Homo sapiens: one gene and its partner. The protein of the gene in region 1 binds, or shares a complex with, the protein of each later gene. Each region holds a gene or a part of one and is shown on either strand. Other genes may lie near its edges.

The links.
Region 2: RRN3 (region 1) and TAF1A share a complex: the UniProt entries of both Homo sapiens proteins name them as parts of the pol I pre-initiation complex.

Annotation. Positions count from the first base shown.
Region 1 is NC_000016.10:15,091,169-15,099,202, forward strand, and holds the start of RRN3 (RNA polymerase I-specific transcription initiation factor RRN3), read right to left. Parts: upstream 3,105-8,034; 5' UTR 3,066-3,104; coding exon 2,977-3,065; intron 1,447-2,976; coding exon 1,341-1,446; intron 204-1,340; coding exon 147-203; intron 1-146. UniProt on the Homo sapiens protein: Required for efficient transcription initiation by RNA polymerase I (Pol I). Required for the formation of the competent pre-initiation complex (PIC).
Region 2 is NC_000001.11:222,565,713-222,572,986, forward strand, and holds part of TAF1A (TATA box-binding protein-associated factor RNA polymerase I subunit A), read right to left. Parts: intron 4,954-7,274; coding exon 4,823-4,953; intron 3,957-4,822; coding exon 3,798-3,956; intron 3,713-3,797; coding exon of another isoform or gene 3,671-3,712; exon of another isoform or gene 1,713-3,670; intron 814-1,712; coding exon of another isoform or gene 762-813; intron 1-761. UniProt on the Homo sapiens protein: Component of the transcription factor SL1/TIF-IB complex, which is involved in the assembly of the PIC (pre-initiation complex) during RNA polymerase I-dependent transcription.

The DNA of each region.
Region 1 (8,034 bases):
TGTCCCTGGTTGAGAACCACCAGATTAAAATAAGGGAGGACCATGGAGAGAGCAAGTTCTGGAGGACAGAATGGGACCCAAAGAGCAAACTATGTCTGTATACAGTGGCAATAATTTTGCTAATGATCAAACACAAAATTAATTACCTTTATGTCTGGATCTAACAGCTGGTTCTTCAACAACTCAAAGTCATTTGTTTCACCCTTAACAAGAAGGGGAAAGAATTAAGTTATGCTTTTGTTTCCTGTTTAGTATCAACAGCAAGACTTTTAACCGTACTTTAACATCAGATGAAATTATAAAAGGAACACTAACTTTCACATGTCAATTGCGGATTATAAAATCATGACTACAAAAATTTAAACACTCATGTTAGTGCAGCCAGAGGGCTTGGAAAAAGGAAAATGATAAACTACATTTAGCTATACTTCTGTATTGACATTTGAATATAATAGTTGATACTCCTGCGAATTCTCAAAAAGCATGAGGGAAAAAAACAGCCAGCTATAATGATCTAATTCAGGAGGATCTAAAAAAGTATTCACTCAAATATGGATACAAATGGATATTACATATAAACATATGGTTACTTAACATTTTCCCTCTACTGCTGAGATACAGTAGAAATGCTTCTAAACTACCACAAAAACAAAAATCCCTACTCAGAGAACTGGTTTACTGTCCCAAAGTAATGCTTAGGTAAGTTCCTCAAAAAATAAAATGCTGTAGGCCAGGCATGGTGGCTCACGTCTGTAATCCCAGCACTTTGGGAGGCCAAGGCGGGTGGATCACAAGGTCAGGAGTTCGAGACCAGCCTGGCCAACATGGTGAAACCCTGCCTCTACTAAAAAAATAAAAAAATTAGCCAGGTGTGGTGGTGTGTGCCTGTAACCCCACCTATTCGGAAGACTGAGGCAGGAGAATTGCTTGAACCTGGGAGGTGGAGGATGCAGTGAGCCGAGGTCACGCCACTGCACTCCAGCCTGGGTGACAGAGGAAGACTCCAGCACAAATAAATAAATAAATAAAATGGTGTAATTGTTTTTAATTCTGGCACTTGCTAAAGTTAAAAGATGCTTCGTAAATAAAGCATTTGAAGAGGTGAAACCTCAGTAAAGACATTATTACTCTCTCATTATTACCTGTGAAATGGGCCAAGGTGGGGGAAAAAAAGGACACTATTACTCTAATTTTGCACTGACGGCATCATGCTATTATTAAATATTTGATTTCAACTGGTATCTTAATTAATCTTGCTATTTCTATTGGTCTTTAGTATAACAGCAATAGTTGTATTCTGACCTAACCAAAAGCAAACCTCACACATTATCTCCCCTTACCTTTTTGTACTTCAGCAAGACTTCTGTCACAGTTCCACCAAACCGAACAGTTTTTCTTGGGGGAGAATTGAAAAAGTCATTCTCTAATGCACGCATATTTGAAATCCTGTGGAACCAAGATTAACAAGCTATTAAGTTCATGAAAATAATAAAAATTATAATAGCCAACATTTATTGAACCAACATAATTCAGTGGAACTATTGTTAAGGCCTCTTTACTGGTCTCCCTGCTTCCACTCTTAACCAACAATCCTTCCTTTGCTCAGCAACCAATAACTGTCTTCCCACTGCACTTACAGTAAAAATCCAAATCTCTCAGTGTGGTCTTTAAGATCCTACATTAATCTGGCCCCTGCCTACCTCTCTCACCTCATCTCCAACAACTTGTTTTACTACAGCCATAACGTCTTTTCTGCTCTTCAAACAAGCCAAGCTGTTTTTCATTTCACTTACTGTTCACTCTATTGGAAATACTCTTTTCCCAAATCTCTACGTGGCTGGATTTTTTTTTTTGAGATGGAGTCTTGCTCTGCTGCCCAGGCTGGAGTGCAGTGGTGTGATCTTGGCTTAACTGCAACCTCCATCTCCCGGGTTCAAGCAATTATCCTGCCTCAGCCTCCTGAGTAGCTGGGATTACAGGCACCTGCCACCATGCCCGGCTGATTTTTGTATTTTCAGTAGAGACGAGGTTTCGCACGTTGGCCAGGCTGGTCTCCAACTCCTGACTTCAGATGATCCGCCCGCCTCGGCCTCCCAAAGTGCTGGGATTACAGGCGTGAGCAACCGCGCCCGGCCTAGATTTTTGTCTTCATTCAAGTGGAAGCTCAAATGACAGATGTCTTCCCAATGAGAAATCTCAAAAGCTCCTTCTCTCCCTTCTCCCTCCCCCATTACCTTGTTGTATAACTGAAATCATCGTGTTCGTTTATTTATTGGCCTATGTACTGCCTTTCCCCCCTATGCTGTAAGCTCTGTAGAAAGCAGGGACATTAGTGTCTTTGGATAAACCACTGTCCCCAGTGTTTAACACAGTAAGCAGGAGCTCGATAATTATTATGAATCATATTACGCTAATTGTTTTACAAGGTTTGCTTCACTTACACGTAGTAAATTAATGAAAAAACATAGCATCCTAATGACTCTGAAAGTTAAACGCCAAGAGTGCTACGGGGGTTAGGGATTTTAAAAGTGGAGCAAAATAAAGACTGCGAAACAAATACGTGTGTCGAAACAAATTCCAAACAAAAAAGATGTAATATTCAATTTGCCATGAGTGACGACGTTCGGCTGATAACCCACATAGCCCAGGGAAATCCCTTCCAAATTTGGACGAAGAAGAGGGAAGGAAGAGGGGTCAAGGCGCAGAAGGCAGTACCCAGGCCTGGGAAATCACGAAGAGACACAGTCGGGAAAGGGGGCCTCCAGAACAGAGAACATAGTCACTTTTCCAGGCCCCACCCATGTCTATTACCCAGTTAGGAGGAATGAGCTCATTTCTGTGAACGTGAGATGACCCTCCACCCCGTGCTCCTATCACACGCCATGAGCTTTGTCCCACATCCTTTCAATCCGCTCCTCTAAGCGCCGTCCTGAGCTTTCGTCCCAGATACGCAGAAGGAAGCGGCCTGAATCTTACCCAGTCCTCGACGCGCCCAGCTTCTTAACTGCAGAGGACGAAGCGGCCGCATCTCCCGGCAAACGCGTGTGAAGCAGCGGTGCCGCCATTGGGCCGAACTAACGCGACCGCTGCGCCTCAGGCCGGATGCCCAGCTCCTTCCAGCCACAGCCTCTGTCCCGGAAGTTGCGCGTGCCAGCGCAACCTTCAGCCAATCAGCGGCCCCGCGTGGGGAGGGCGTATGCTCTCGGCGGGCTAGAGCGCCGCTGAAACCCGCTCCTCGTTCTACTTGGAGGACTTGTTCCAGCCAGCGCTAGTGCGTGAGTATAAGGAGAGACGGGAAGGACCGGCTCCATCCAGCCCTGAGGATCCCGAAGAAAGGGTGGAAACACCCTGGATGTGCTAAGCTGTGGCCGGGTACACTCAAGTGTTAATTTTTTGGAGTCAAAGCCTCCCTCAGTCAAATCGAAGAAACTGAAGCACTTGTGACTGACCCAGATCTTCACGGAGGAAAGGGGATTCGAACCCGGCTGACCCAGGAGCCTGGGCTCTATACTCAGTGCAGCAGTCTCACAGACACCCAAGATAACGTTATCCTCACGGAAACGAGCTCGACGAAGTGACCTACCTCAGAGCCTCAAGGCTATGGTGATGCTGGCATGAGAAACAACAGGAGAGTTACGAAGAGGTGTTACCCCCTTGACTTTATTTATTTATTTATTTATTTTCTTTTGAGGCCGAGTCTTGCCCTTTTGCCCAGGTGGAGTGCAGTGGTGTGATCTCAGCTCACTGCAACCTCCGCCTCCCCAGTTCCAGCAATTCTCGTGCCTCAGCCTCCCAAGTAGCTGGGATTACAGGCGCATGCCACCACACCCGGCTAATTTTCGTATTTTTAGTGGAGACGGGGTTGCACTGTGTTGGCCAGGCTGGTCTCGAACTCATGACCTCAGGTCATCCGCCCGCCTCGGCCTCCCAAAGTGCTGGGATTACAAGCATGAGCCACCACGCCCGGCCAAACTTAAATTTTTAAAAGAGGAACAGGAGTCAGCCAGACCAACAAAAGAGCCACTGGCGTTCCAAGCATAGGAAACGGAGGAAACAGAGGCCAAAACCTCGGGACTGTGGAGGATGTAGAGGGAGAGCAGGGGCTGCCCCTACTCTCAGGGAGGGGAAAAGGTTGCAACTTTGGAAACTGTACAGGCCTATCAAAAATACAAAAATATCCAGCCTGGGTGACACGGTGAAACTCCATCTCTACAAAAAATTTAAAAAATAAAAATAATAAAAATTATCTGGGTGTGGTGGCACACACCTGTAGTCCCAGCTACTCGGGAGGCTGAGGATTGCTTGAGCCTGGGAGATAGCACCACTGCACTCCTGCTTGGGCAACAGAGTGAGACCCTGTCTCGAAATAAATAAATAAGTTTTTAAAAATGCATATGTATGGGCCCGGCGCAGTGGCTCACGCCTGTTATCCCAACACTTTGGGAGGCCGAGGCAAGTGGATCACCTGAGGCCAGAAGTTTGAGACCAGCCTGGCCAACATGACAAAACCCTGTCTCTACTAAAAATACAAAATTAGCCAGGCATGGTGGCAGTGCCTGTAATCCCAGCTACTTGGGAGGCCGAGGCAGGAGAATAGTTTGAACCCAGGAGGCAGAGGTTGCAGTGAGCCAAGATCGTGCCATTGCACTCCAGCCTGGGTGACGAGTGAAACTGTGTCTCAAAAAAAAAAAAGGTGTGTGTGTGTGTGTGTGTGTGTGTGTGTGTTTATATGTATCTCTCTCCAGGAGTTCAAGACCAGCCTGGGCAACATATGGTGGTGCATACCTGTAGTCCCAGCTACTTGAAAACTGAGGACGGAGGATCACTTGAGCCCTGGAGGTCAAGGCTGCAGTGAGCTGTGATTGTACCCCTGCACTCCAGCCTGGACAACACAGCAAGACCCTATTTCACAACATAAAATACAGCAATTTGGTTTTTTTGTTTTTTGTTTTTTTTTTGAGACAGAGTCTCGCTCTGTCACCCAGGCTGGAGTACAGTGTCATGATCTTGGCTCACTGCATCCTCTGCTTCCCAGGTTCAAGCGATTCTTGTGCCTCAGCCTCCCCAGTAGCTAGGATTACAGGCATGCGCCACCATGCCCAGCTAATTTTTGTATTTTTAGTAGAGACAGGGTTTCACCATGTTGGCCAGGCTGGTCTCAAACTCTTGACCTCAAGTGATCCGCCCGCCTTGGCATCCCAAAGTGCTGGGATTACAGGCATGAGCCACCACGCCCCGCCAGCAGTTTGTTAAACATAAACCATAGCTCTGTTTTGCAACAGTGTAAAATCAGTAACTGTCTTTCCTGAGTCTCTATTTGGTCCTTACTGAGTTCCTTGGGAATGTTGGACAGGAATCATCTGTGTCTCAAGGACAGAGGAAATAATTGCACCGTAGCTCACAAAGATACTTCAAGATAACTGTTTAAATGAGAATCTCTTCTTCACTTCCAAGGGAAAGCAAAGCAAAAACAAAAAGCAACAATAGCAAAACAGCAATCTGACAATTATCTGTTTTGTTTTGTTTTGGTTTGAGACAGGATCTCATTGTCTAGCCCAAGTTAGAGCGCAATGGCGCGATCATGGCTCGTTGCAGCCTCGGGCTCCTACAGCTTATGCAATCCTCTCACCTCAGCCGCCCGAACCCACACCACCAAGCCCAGCTAATTTTTTGTATTTTTGGTAAATACGAGGTCTCACTTTGTTGCCCAGGCTGGTCTTGAACCCCCGGCCCAAGTGATCCTCCCACCTTGGCCTCCCAAAGTGTGTCTCCCCACCTACACTCCCATTCTTTCCCTTAAAAAAAGTCTGAGTCTGGGTGCAGTGACTCACACCTGTAATGCCAGAGCTTTGGGAGGCTGAGGCAGGAGGATAACTTGAAGCCAGGAGTTTGAGACCAGCCCAGGCAACACAGCCAGACTCCGTCTCTACAAATAACACTTTTAAAAAACTTACCCAGGCATGGTGGCACGTGCCTGTAGTTCCAATTATTTGGGAGACAGAGGTGGGAGAATCACTTGAACCCAGGAGTTGGAAGCTGCAGTGAGCTATGACTACACCACGACACTCTCTGGCCTGGGTGACAAAGCAAAATCTCATCTCTTAAAAAAAAAAAGGGAAAAAAAGCTTGATATGTACAAAATAATATGTTAATGTAAGTTATAAGAACATAATGGGCCAGACACAGCGGCTCCTGCCTGTAATCCCAGCACTTTGGGAGGCCGAGGCAGGCGGATCACGAGGTCAGGAGATCGAGACCATCCTGGCTAATGCGGTGAAACCCCGTCTCTACTAAAAATACAAAAAAAAAAAAAAAAAAAAAAAATGTGCCGGGCGTGGTGGCAGGCACTTGTAATCCCAGCTACTTGGGAAGCTGAGGCAGGAGAATGGCATGAACCCGAGAGGTGGAGCTTGCAGTGAGCCGAGATCGCGCCACTGCACCCCAGCCTGGGTGACAGAGTGAGACTCCGTCTCCAAAAAAAAAAAAAAGAACATAATGAACACCTGTGAACATATCGCCCAATTTAAGAAGCCGAACATTAACTAGGACAATTGACACTTACTCTGTGCTGCTCTCGGATCCCACCTTCTACCTGCTTTCCTCCCAAAAATAGTCACCATCATGATTTTTAAAAGTCATTTTAGTTTTCTTTGAATAATTATCATATTTATACTCCTAAACAATGCACTATATTTACTTTTATTTGTCTTTGCATTTTATAAAGTTATCTCCATGCTGTATTATACTGCTGTTTGTTTTCAACATTATGCTTTTTTTTTTTTTTTTTTTTTGAGACGGAGTCTCCCTCTGTTGCCCAGGCTGGAGTGCAGTGGCATGATCTCCCGCCGTCCTCCCACCTCGGCCTCCCAAAATGCTGAGATTATAGGCATGAGCCACCGCGACCAGCCTGAATATTCTTGTATCATGTCCTGATGTATGTGTACAAGTGTTTTTCTAGGGTGGAACTGTTGGGTTGGAGGGGGCACCAAAAGCTTTTAGGAAAGGAGAAAGGAACAAATTGGATATCTATGATTTTTTTTTTTTTTTTTTGAGACAGAGTCTCACTCTGTTGCCCAGGCTGGGGTACAGTGGCACAAGCTCAGCTCACTGCAACCTCTGCCTCCCGGGTTCAAGCGATTCTCCTGCCTCAGCCTCCTGAGTAGCTGGGACTACATGTGCCCGCCACCACACCTGGCTAATTTTTGTATTTTTAGTAGAGATGGGGTTTCTCCATGTTGCCCAGGCTGGTCTCAAATGCCTGACCTCAGGTGATCTGCCTACCTTGACCTCCTAAAATGCTGGGATTACAGGTGTGAGCCATCGTGTCTGGCTACTATTAGTTTTTCTATTTAGAAATTGTTCATCTGGATCCTCCCTACCTTTCAGCCATTTGCAATACATTTGTTGAGCATAAAGAGTGACCTTCTTGGCCGGGCATGGTGGCTCACGCCTGTAATCCCAGCACTTTTGGAGGCCAAGGTGGGTGGATCACCTGAGGTCGGGAGTTCGAGACCAGCCTGACCAACATGGAAAAACCCTGTCTCTACTAAAAATACAAAATTAGCCTGGCATGGTGGCACATGCCTGTAATCCCAGCTACTTGGGAGGCTGAGGCAGGAGAATCACTTGAACCTGGGAGGCAGAGGTTGCAGTGAGCCGAGATCACTGCCATTGCACTCCAGCCTAGGCATCAAAACTCCCTCTCAAAAAAAAAGAGCAACTTTCTTGTCCACAGCAAAGAATCACTGGAAGCCATTTGATGCAATATGACCTCATCTCTCTAGCCAGTGTCGATTGGGTTACAGGAGGGCACCAAGAAGCTTTTTGAAGGCTGTGCCAATGTACACTTCCAGCAATATCTTCTTAAGCTTGAGTGCAGCTCCTTATTTTCCCAAAGCACAGCTAAGACTAAGGCTGCCAAGTTTTTAAAAAGATTTAAAGGAAACTCTGAGCATTATACAAGAAAAATACTGGCCGGGCCCTGTGGCTCATGCCTGTAATCCCTGTACTTTGGGAGGCTGAGGCAGGTGGCTC
Region 2 (7,274 bases), on another chromosome or scaffold:
TTAGCCAGCCATGGTGGCGTGTGCCTGTAGTCCCAGCTACTCGGGAGGCTGAGGTGGCAGGATCACCTGAGCCAGGGAGGTGGAGGCTACAGGGAGCCTCACGTGATCATGCCATTGCACTCCAGCTTGGGCAACAGAGTGAGACCCTGTTTCAAACAACAACAACAGCAAAGGATTGTTTAGTAAAACAAAGCCTGTTGAAAAATTTATAAAACTTAGTTTCCACATCTGAAGGTTTGATAATGCCAATTTTGATCACGAAAGTATAAAGATAATTGGCCTTTTAAAAGAAAACAGAGATAAGAACTTTTCTCTATCATTTCTTTAGGTTGAAAGGACCTTTGTCTTTCACCTCTAAAATGCCATGATTAAAAACTGAACACAAAATATACAAAGAATTCCTATAATTTAACAACAAAAACCAAACAACCCAATTCATAAAAGGGCAGAGGACTTGAATAGACATTTGCCAAAGATGATAAACAAATGGCCAATAAGCACATGAAAAGATACACATCACTAGACATTAGGGAAATGCAAACCAAAACCACACTGAGACACAGATACCACTTCACACCCACTAGGATAGCGGTCCCCAACTTTTTTGGCACCAGGTCCTGGTTTCGTGGAAGACAATTTTTCCACAGACCAGTGTGAGGGTCAAGGATGGTTTCGGGATTGCATTATTTATGCACTTTACATTTATTGTGCACTTTATATTATTACATTATAATATATAATGAAATAATTATACAACTCACCATAAGTAGAATCAGTGAGAGCCCTTGTTTTCCTGCAACTGGATGATCCCATCTGGGGGTGATGGGAGACAGTTACAGATCATTAGGCATTAAATTCTCATAAGGAGCACACAACCTAGATCCCTCCCATGTGCAGTTCACAATACGGTCCGGGCTCCTATGAGAATCTAATGCCACCGCTGATCTGACAGGAGGCAGACCTCAGGTAATGCTCACTTGCCTGATGCTCACTTTCTGCTGTGTGGCCTGGTTCCTAACAGGTCACAAACAGATACCGGTCCATGACCCAGGGGTTGGGGATCCCTGCACTAGGATATCAATGATCAAAAAAGGGGATGGAGAATAGAAGCTGTTAGCCAGGATGTGGAATTGTTGGTAGGAATGTAAAATAGTGTAGTTGCTGTAGAAAACAGTTTGACAATTCCTCAAAAAGTTAAAAGAATTACCATATAATCCAGCAATTTCACTCCTGAGTATACACCCAAAAGAAGTGAAAGCAGCGAACTCCAACAAATACCTGTACACTAATCTTTAGAGCAGCATTACTTATAATAGCCAAACAACAAACACAACCCAAATGTCTACCAAGAAATGGATAAGCAAAATGTTGTAGGTACATAAAATGGAATATTATTCAGCCTTAAATAAAAATGGCCGTTCTGATATATGCTACAACATGGATGAACCTTGAAAACATTATGCTAAGTGAAATTAGCAAGACACAAAAGGACAAATGTTATATGATTCCACTTATATGAGGTACCTAGAATAATCAAATTCACGAAGATGGAAATTAGCACAGAGGTTTTCAGGGGCTGGGAGGAGCAGGCAATGAGGAGTTATTGTTTAATGAATAGTTTCTACTTCGGATAACGAAAACATTCTGGAAATAGACAGTGATGGTGGTTGCACAAAACTGTGAATGAATGTACTTAATGCCACTAAATTATATGCTTTAAAAATGATCAAAATGGTAACATTTATTTTTGTATATATTTTCCCACAATTTAAAATGTTAAGCAATATTATATACAACAACCCCATGAAACACTTAGGGACAAATTTAACAAAATACATACACTAAAAACTACAAAACAGTTCAGAGAGAAATTAAAAACCTAAATAAATGGAGAGACATGCCATGTTTACACTTTGGAAACCTCAATACAGTTGAGATGTCAATTCTCTCAAACTGATCTATAGATTCAAAATCTCAGCAAGACCTTTTTGTAGCAACAGGTAAGTTGATTATACAATATACATGGAAAGTTAAAGAACCTAGAAAAGCCAAAAGCAATTTTGAAAAAGAACAAATTTGTATGACTTTCATGATATGATTCCAAGACTTGCTACAAAGCTACAGTAACCATATTAAGGCCACATGAGATATTACTACACACCCACTAGAATGGCAATAACTCACATTTAGAAGACCTACAATATGAAGTATTGGCAAGGATGTGGAGAAACTGAATTTTCATCTATTGAGGTGGAAATATACATCACTAGAACACAACAGACTTCATATACAGCCTACTGGTTTTCAACAAAGTTCCAAATGTACTAAATGGAGAAAGGAGAGTCTTCAATATAATGCTGGAACAACCACATGGGAAAAAATGAACCTTGACCTTTGCCACACACTACCCACAAAAAAATAGCTAAAAATCTACCATGACCTAAACATAAAACTATACAACACATCTAGAAAAAAAAAAAAAAAAGAACTCTTCATTATCTTGAGATAGGCAAATATTTCTTAGACAAAAAGCACTAACCATAAAAGAAAAAAAAATGTACAAACTGAACATCAAAACTAGAAGTTTCTACTCTTTGAAAGATACTATTAAGGAAACCAAAAGGCAAGGCACAGTCAGAGAGAAAATATTCATAATTAATATTCTTCACAAAGGACTTATATCCAGATTATATAAAAATTTCCAAATCAGTAAGAAGACAATTGATCCCCCCAAAAATAGACTAAGTAGTTGGACACATGACAAAAGAAGATACAGGATGGCCAATAGACATACTAAAAGATGCTCAACATCACTAGTCATTAGGGAAATACAATTTAATGCCACATGGGACACCCACAAGAGGCTATTATTCAAAAGACCTCCAATACCAAGTGTTGGCACAGATGTGGAGAAACTGAATTTTCATATTGCTGTGTGAATGTCGATGGTACAGTCACTTCAAAAAACAGCTGGGCAGTTTCTTAGGAAGTTAAGCATATACTTTCCTTACTACTCTTAGGCAGCAACTCCTCTCTCAGGTAGCTACCCAAGAAACATGAAAATATATGTGTATACAGAATCTTGTACATGAATGTTCTCAGCAGCATCATTCACAATAGCCAAAAAGTAAAAATTACCCAAATGTCCATCAAGAAGTGAATGTATAAAAATGAAATACTATTCAGCAGTAATAAGGAAATTACTAATATACACAATAACATGGGTGAATCTCAAATATGTTACGCTGAGCAAGAGAAGCCAGATTAAAATGACTACATAAGAGTCCATTTACATGAAATTCTAGAAGAGATAAAAATTAATCTATAGTGACAATAAGCAGATCAGTGATTGTCTGGGGCCATGGTTGTGGGGACAGACAGGCTGCAAAGGGAAATGAAAGGCATTCTGGGGGCGACAGAAATGTTCTATATCATGATTACCATGGTGGTTCATGAATGTAACGCATCCAAGCACATACTTAAAATAAGTGTGTTTACTCTCTGAAAACTAAATTTCAATAAAGTTGATTTTCAAAAAATATCAGTGCAGAGTATTCCAACCAGGGTTGCACAAGACTTCTGATCCTCTCTCCTCAGTCTCATCCGGGCAGCAGGGGATAGTGTGGATGATACATACATGGAGATGGCAGCTGGAGCCAACTTTCTCTGTTTATCTCAGTGTACTGTACATTATTGAAATTTTCTGTAGATGCTATAAAAGTTAGAAAGCAATGGCCTAAGAATGTTTTAATGTAGATTCCCAACCCTGGTCAAACATCGAGATAAAAATTCTATACCTTAAGCACACTTATCAATTTTGATCTTGGTGCCTTCTGTCTCTTTAGAAAGTTGTATAAGTAGATATGGGCATTTGGATTTGATGGAAACTTTTCATCATATGCATAATTGGTGAGTACCTCTTGGGCTCCATCTCGATCCCCATAGAATTCCAGCATCTATATAAAATAAATCATAATATCTTAGCTGAATTCTGTAAGACAGCTATACGAAAAATAATACACAGCATAAGTTTACTGATGGGTATTTTTTAAAAATCACAAAACTGACAGGGTTCCCATTTTTTCCCTGTATTTTGTTACTACTAATAAACAATGCAGCAACCTCAACATAAATTCTCTTCCTATAAAAAATAAGAGTCCTCAAAGCAGGGAACACTAATGCTCGAAAATGTGATGCAGCTAACCTCAGTGCCCTACATCACTGCAGCCACAAAAGGAGTGCATGAGAATTGTAATTCCTTTCATCCTGTTCCCATCCTTACACAGGAATCTCCAGATTATGATTTTGGAGATTATCTTCTGACAACACAATTATCAACTTGCCACTCATTAACTTTCACAAAGCAAATTATTTTGAAGATTTATTCCTAGTGCCTAGCACCAAGGCCCTCAGTCCTTTTACAATGACTCTGGGATGACAGGACATTCTTATGAACTTCCAAAAAGCCATCATTCTTCACCTCATATAGTATGACCCATTTTTTCAGATTTTTGTCCTCTTTCCTTCTATATCCCACCAAATCATAAGGTATCTTACTGCATTTCTTTTAAGCTCAACAAGAATAAGATTGAATTAACATTTACAACTATACTGCTATTTATTTTATAGATACTTGGCCACGACGGGTTATACAGTGGTGAAAATAAACAAATTCAGACCAAAAAAGAGACACCGTATTTTTGCTTTCTTTTAAATAATTTTTTCCATTAGTTTCTTTCTGATCAATAAAGATTAGGCATGCAGTCTTTGTATAGGCTTTTGACAAAATAAAACCAATAAATTTAATGAAAATTCTACTTACTTCTACATAACTCTTCACAAAAGGGTCCCAAACTCCAGGAATTTTAATCAATGCAGAAATATTTGCAGATGTCTTCCAGCTGTGGTTGAACACATCCTGGGCTACTGCATTGTAAGCATAATCATCCTTATCTGCCCAAAGATACAAGATCTTTTAACATTCATTAAACATTGAGGACCTCTGTTAAATTAGTAATTTAAAAAACTATCTGCGAGAAAAACTCAGTTGCTGATAGCTACAACAGTAAATTCCAACAAATATTTAAAGGAAAATACTAATTCTTCACAAATTCTCCCAAAAAAAGGACAGAAAAGAATACTTCCTAACTTATTCTAAGCCAGTATTACCATGATACCAAAACCAAAGACAACACAATAAAACTACAGATCAGTATCTCTTAAGAATATAGCTGCAAAAATCTTTAACAAAAATACTAGCAAACTGAGTCCAACAACATATAAAAAGCATTATACATCATGTCCAAGTCGGATCTATACTAGGAATGCAAGGTTGGCTTAACATCTGAAAATCAATTAATGCAAATAATAAAATAGAGATCTATTGATCTAAACCAAATCAAAAGAATACAGGACCAAAACCTCATGATCATCACAATAGACACAGAAAAAGCATCTGAAAAAACACAATAACCCTTCATGATAAAAAGACTCAACAATGTAGGAACAGAAGGAACTTCCTCAATCTGATAAAGGGCATCTATGAAAAACTCATAGCTAACATTGAACTGAATGATAAAAGACTGCATGCTTTCCCCCTAAAATCAGTAATAAGACAAAAATGTCTTTTCTCACTACTTTTGTTCATTATATTGGTGGTTCCAGCCAGGACAATTAAGCAAGAACATAACAAAAAGATATCCAAGATTGGAAAGGAAGAAGTAAAACTATCTCTATTTGCAGATGACATGGTCTTGTACACAGAAAAATCCTAAGAACCCACTAAAAATTTACTGAACTAATAAATGAGTTCACAAAGGTTGCAGAGTACAAGATCAATACACAATAATCAACTGTATGTCTATACACTTGCAATGAACAAGCAGAAGATAAAATTAGGAAAACAATGCCATTTGCAAAAGCATCAAAAGTAACAAAATGGGTAGAAATTTTACAAAAGAGATGCAAAATTTTACTCTGAAAAGTGATACTGTTGAAAAAAAATTTTTTAAGACCTAAATGAATGAAAAGACACTCTGTGTTCAGTTGAAAGACTTACTATTGTCAAATTGATCTACAGATACATGTAATTCCTATCAAAAACTCGGCCTTTTTGCATAAGTTGACAGGCTGATTCTATAATTCATACGAAAATGCAAGGGACCAAAGAAGAACAAAGAATCTTTAAAAAGGACAAAGTTGGATAATGTACTCTATGACTATGGCCAGGCATGGTGGCTCACACCTATAATCCCAGCACTTTGGGAGGCCGATGTGGGTGGATCACCTGAGGTCAGGAGTTCGAGACCAGCCTGACCAACAAGGTGAAACCCCGTCTCTACTAAAAGTACGAAAAAATTAGCTGGGCGTGGTGGCACACGCCTGTAGTCCCAGCTACTCAGGAGGCTGAGGCACAGGAATCGCTTGAACCTGGAAGACACAGATTGCAGTGAGCTGAGATCCTGCCACTATACTCCAGCATGGGCAACACAGCAAGACTCAGTCTCAAAAAAAAAAAAAAAAAAAGTACTACAAAGCTGTAGTAATCAAGACTGTGTGATATGGGCAGAAAGAGAGACACATGTAGATCAATGGAAGATTTAGAGTCCAGAAGTAAACCTCTACATTTATAGGTAACTAATTTTCTTTTGTGTGTGTGTAAGACAGGGCCTTACTTTGTCTCCCAGGCTGGACTGCAGTGGCATGATTTCAGCTTACTGAAGCCTCACTCTACCTCCTGGGCTCAAGTGAACCTCTCACCTCAGCCACTCAAGTAGCCAGGACTACAGGCACACGCTACCACACTCAGCTAATTTTTGTATTTTTTGTAGAGATGCAGTTTCACCATGTTGCCCAGGTTGGTTTCGAACTCCTGAGGGCTCATGCGATCTACCTGTCTTGGCCTCCCAAAGTGCTAGGATTACAGGCATGGCCACTGCTCCCGGCTGCTAACTAATTTTCAGTAAGGGTGCCAAGACAATTCAGTGGGAAAATAATAGACTTTTCAATAAATGCTACAACTGGATATCCACATACAAAATAATAAAGTTGGGCCCCTACCTACTTCATAAAAATTAACTCAAAGGCCAAAATATAAGAGCTAAAACTTTAAAACTCTCAGAAGAAGTGAAAATCTTTGCGACCTTGCAGTAGGCAACAGCTTCTTAGATGTGATACCAAAACCACAAGCAACAAAAGAAGAAACAGTTAAATTAAACCTCATCAAATGAAACACTTTTATGCTTCAAAGGACACCATCAAGATAGTGAAAAGAA